Regions from separate parts of the Homo sapiens genome. Here region 1 is linked to region 2. Evidence: fine-mapped expression QTL. Tissue or cell type: whole blood. Region 2 holds a variant in brackets; the other region holds the start of a gene. All regions are shown on one strand. Distances are from middle to middle.

Region 1 (2,618 bases), 56 kb after region 2:
GAGACTAGCTCTCACCACGTTTCCCAGGCTGGTCTTGAACTCCTGGACTCAAGCAATCCTCCCACCTCGGCCTCCCAAAGTGCTGGGATTACAGGCATGAGCCACCCCCGCCGGCCTTGGCTTCTCACTTTGAACAAGGCTTATGCCTTCAGCCTCATCACTGATTTCACACAGACGATATTACTCCTTCCATTCACCTGCCTGACCCTTCTAGGCAACTAACTCTTTATGAGGAAGAAGATGGGAACCCAGAGATTCATAGCTCAAGTTTAATCATTCCCTCATCCCTCAAGCTACAGAACTAGCTGGCTGTAGCACCAAGAACCACTAAGAACTCAAACCCCTTAAAGGCTGGAAGACCAGACTACTCCTTCAACTGGAATCCAGAGATGGGAGAGGCCAATCTCTAATTGACCCAATTCTGCCACACCTTCAAACAAGTATAGGAAAGAAAAATGAGTGTCCTAAATCCAACAGAAAATTAAGCTTTCGGAATTTACCTCTCTTCCCCTCCTCGCTGCTGTATATCCTGCAGTTTCTCAACGAACTCATGAAATTTCATTTCTTCCCTGTTGGACCTCGGCTTAAAGTTCTGGAAATTGGCCATCTTCTTCTCATCATAGTACAAGAACTTGTGGGTGCTGGCACTGTACACAGAGAAGTCTCCATTGCCAATATTCTCTTGCAGGTATTCAAGGTCCCATTTCAGGGCAGGATACACAAGATTTGTGTCGGTCAGCACCACAGGCTCCTAAATGAAAACAACAGGTGAAAAACACCAAATGAAGTAATGCCAAGGAGCCGGTGGGTTGGCCTCCATGATCCCAACTACTTCTCAACTTCAGAATAATTTCTCCTGTTAATCAGCACGAACCCCTAAGTTCCGTATCTCCTCGCCTTTCTCTCCATCTTCCCATAGGCCCTAGTCTAGAGCCCTGCCAGTCTCCCATCTCTTTCACCATTCACCTCTGACCTCTCAACCGGGTACCTTCCTCCTCTCCCTTTAGACGCGGCCCCGCCCCCCACCTCATTCTCAATAAGCTCCTCTGCCCGGGGGTCGCTCTGACTCAGACGCGGAATGGGCCTAGTCGGGAAGCTATAACTGCGCAACTGGGATTCATCCCAGGCGGGGCCGAGGGCTCCAGCCTCCTCCCGGGGCTCTCCAGAGCCAGAGGCCACAGCCTCCGCCGCTGTCGCCGCCATCTCCGCCGCCAGGGACGGCCCCCACCGGAACCGGAAGCTCCGCCTATTCCGGACCCCAAAAAAAAAAAAACAAAAAAACCACACACCCAACGGAAACCATAGAGATGAGCTGCGAGAGAGAGCGGTCCAGAGACATAAAGAACGCGGAGCCGAGGCCTGAGGGTGCGCCTCCTAATGGTAGTATGCAGCTCTACATCCTAGGCTCCACTGCTGAAGAAATGGGGCTAGACACTAGTCCCACGGAATAGGGACGACCTGGTAGAGCAAAACACAAAAAAAGTTGCCCCATGTGCCCGAGTCTACACAAGAGTCAAAGAAGGAAGCAAGTTCAGTTAGGCATTAAACTTTACACTCATGAATGGGGAGAAAAGCAAACTCTTGACCCACCTAAAGAAGTCAGAAGGAAAAGCAGTGATCACATTGGTAGATGTAGAGCAAAGGCTGACTGAAGGCTTAGGCAAAAGATATACAGCAAGTTGAATTCTTTCAAAATCAAAGACAGTTTTCTTTTGTTTAGCATCATTTGATTTTTCTGCCTATATCACCATGTCTCCTACTTGAATATATGTTTGCCGTGAATCGAATGTTATTAGAGGCCAACCATGGACATCTCACATTTTCAAACAATCTATACTGATTATAAAAGGCCATATTAATACCTCTATTGCTTACTTGGACAGTTCTTATGGCTGGCTGTGAGAGGCCCAATTCTAAGATGTATCCCAAGATTTGTACCCTACGGTGTACACATCCTGTATACATTTCTCCCCTTAAAAGAAAACACGACTGTGAATATGATAGAGCATCACTCCTGTAATTAGGTTAGCTTATATGACAAGGATGTAATTAAAGTCCCTAATCAATTAACTTTAAGGCAGTCAAAAAGAGGTGATTTATCCTGGTGGGCTTCATCTTATCACTCTAGCCCTTTAAATCAGGGCTAGAGGTCAGAGACAGAATCTAAGAGATTTGAAGCCACAGCACAGCTGTCCTGTTCACCTTGAAGGAGCAAACTGCCATATGGCAGGAAATGGCAGGTGGACTCTAGGAGCTGAGAAAGGCTCCTGGGTGACAGCCAACAAGAAAGTGGGCACCTTAATCCTACAAATGCAAGTAACTGAATTCTGGCAACAACCACTGAACTTGGGAAAGGACACACACGGAGCCTCAGATGAGATCGCTAACCCAGCCAACACCTTGATTTCAGCCTGATAAGACCCTGAGCTGAGGACTCAGCCAACCAGTACCTGGACTCATGGAATATGTGAGAAAATAAATTGGTGTTTTGGGCTGCTAAATTTACAGTAATTTGTTATGCAGTAATAGAAATGAATGCACTGGCTTAACTATGTAATTATGCTACATAGTAACCATGCTACACCAAACCGATAATAGGGCTACCTCTGTGGAAGTGT
Region 2 (2,764 bases):
CTCACACAGTGTCGGGATTACAGGCGTGAGCCACCATGTCCAGCCTGTGATTCATTTCAAGTTAAACTGTGAATAAGGTGTGAGACCTTAGGTTGAGGTTTTTTTCCTTTTTTTGGTGGGGGTGGGGGCAGGGGGTAGCTACAGATATCCACTTGCTCCAGAGCCATTTGTTGAAAAGACCATCTTTCTTCCATTGAGTTATTTTTGTACTTTTGCCAAAAATCAGCTGGGCATATTTGTGTGGCTGTATTTCTGGATTCTCTATTCTGTTTCATTAATCTATGTGTATATACCTCTACCAATCTCTTGGTTACTATAGCTTTATCCTTCTTTTTCAAAATTGTTTTTAGCTATTTTAGCTCCTTTGCCTTTAACAGATAAATTTTAGGATAATCTTATCTATATTTGCAAAACATCTTGCTGTGATTTTCACAGGAATTTTGTTAGACCTGTATATCAACTTGGGAAGAATCAACATCTTTATTGTATTGAGTCTTCCAATTTTTTTTTTTTTTTTTTTTTTTTTTTTGAGACAGCGTCTCACTCTGTCACCCAGGCTGGAGTGCAGTGGCATGATCATGGCTCACTGCAGCCTGGAACTCTTGGGCTGTGGAGAGATGATCTTTCCACTTCAGCCTCCTGAGTAGCTATGACTGCAGGTGTGCATCACCATGCCTGACTAATTTTTTTGTATTTTTTGTAGAGATGGAGTTTCGCCATGTTGCCCAAGCTGGTCTCCAACTCCAGGACTAAAGCGATCTGCCTGCCTCAGATTCCCAAAGTGCTGAGATTACAGGGGTGAGCCACCACACTTGGCTAAGTCCTCCAATCTGTAAATATGGTATGTCTCTTCATTTATTTATTGGATCTTCTTTTATTTATTTCATCAGCATTTTGCAGTTTTCAGTACACAAGTTCTGCATGTTTTGTTGTATTTACATCTGAGTATTTTATTTTACTTTTGAGTGACTGTAAATAGTGTTTCATTTTTAATTTCAGTGTCCATCTGTTCATTGCTAGTATGTAGAAATACAATCGATGTTTTTGCATATTTATCTTGTATTCTTCAACCTTGCTGAACTCACTTTTTAGTTCTAGAACTTTTTTTGTAGATTCCTTTGGATTTTCTCAGCAGAAAAGAATGTCTTCTTTTCTGATCTGTATGCTTTTTTTTTTTTAACAGAATCTTGCCAGGCTGGAGTCCAGTGACATGTTCTCAGCCCACTGCAACATCCACCTCCCAAGTTCAAGCGATTCTCGTGCCTGTCTCCC[G/A]AGTAGCTAGGACTAGAGACATTTGCCATCACGCCTGGCTAATTTTTGTATTTTTGGTAGAGACAGTGTTTTGCCATGTTGGCCAGGTTGGTCTTGAATTCCTGGCCTCAAGTAATCTACTCGCCTCGGCCTCCCCAAGTACTGAAATTACAGGTGTGAGCCACTGTGCCTGGCCTGATCTGTATGCTTTTTATTTCCTTTTCTTGTATTATGGCACCGGTTTAGATATTCCAATTTGATTTTGTCAAATGCTTTTTCTGCATCAACTGATATGATTATGTGATTCTTCTTCTTTAGTCTGTTAATAGGGTAAAGTACATTAGTTGATTTTTGAATATTGGATCAGCCTTTCATCCTTGGAATAAACTCCAACTACTCATGGTATCTAATTTTTATTATATATTGCTGGGTTCTATTTGCTAGTATTTTCTTGAGTGTTTCTACATTTATTTTCATGAAGAATATTGGTCTGTAATTTTCTTTTTTTTCTTTTTTTCATACCATCTTTGATGATGGGTAATATTAGTTTCATAAAATTAATTGGAAAGTGTTCCCTCTTCTTCTATTTTCTGGAAGAGATTACATAATGTTGTTCCTTCTTCTTTAAACATTTGTTAGAACTCTCCAGTAAAACCATATAGGCCTGAAGATTTCCTTTTTGGGGAGTTTTTAAATTATGAATTCAATTTCCTTAATAGAGGGCTATTCAAATTATCTATTTCCTGTTGGGGGAGTTGGGGTAGTTTGTATTTTTAAAGAAATTTGTCCAGTTCATCTAAATTGTCAATATTTATATGTGTAGTTTTTCATAGTATTCCATTATCCATTTGATGTCTGCAGGGTCTGTAGTGATATCTCTTGTTTTATTCTCGATATGGGTAATTTGTGTCTTCATTCTTTATTTTTTGTCAGTCTTGCTAGAGGATTATTAGTTTTATTGATCTTCCAAAGAACTAGCTCTTTGTTTCACTGATTTTCTCTATCATTTTCACATTTCTAGTTTTGTTGGCTTTTGCTCTTTTCTTTATTGTTTCCTTCCTCCACTTGCTTTGGATTTCCTTTGCTCTTCTTTTTCTAGATTCATGAAGTAGAAGCTTAGATGGTTGATTTGAAATTTTCTTCTTTTCTAATGCATAAATTTGGTGCTATAAATTTTCCTGTCACCACTGCTTTAGCTATGACTCACAAATTTTAAGATGTTGTATTATCATTTTTGTTCAGTTTGGTGTATCTTTGTGACTACCTCTTTGACCCATGGATTATTTACAAGTGTGTTGTTTTGTTTCCAAGTGTTTGAAGATTTTCTTGCAATCTTTCTATTATCAATTCAATTTTTTAAAAATTCCATTTGTGGTCAAAGAACACACTCTATATGATTTCAATTCTTTTAAATTTGCTGAGTTTGTTTAATGGCTCAGCATATGCTCTATCTTGGCATATGTCCTATGGGCACTTGGAAAAAATGTGTATTTTGCTGTTGTTGAATGGAGTG

What was found. PIP is the estimated chance that this variant, and not a neighbour inherited with it, causes the effect.
Region 1: it holds the start of HIF1AN, and the variant in region 2 is fine-mapped to the expression of HIF1AN in whole blood (TOPMed, PIP 0.95).

The regions. Positions count from the first base shown.
Region 1 is chr10:100,534,544-100,537,161 of GRCh38, reverse strand. HIF1AN (hypoxia inducible factor 1 subunit alpha inhibitor) reads right to left here and starts at 1,219. Exons shown (of 8, transcript NM_017902.3): 1 at 1,027-1,219; 2 at 501-751. The coding sequence starts at 1,203. RefSeq lists enhancers at 1,240-1,299, 1,370-1,459.
Region 2 is chr10:100,590,104-100,592,867 of GRCh38, reverse strand. No RefSeq gene overlaps it. Among named protein-coding and RNA genes, the nearest start is that of HIF1AN, 56 kb to the right of the region's middle. The variant G/A (reference allele first, on the strand shown) is at 1,273.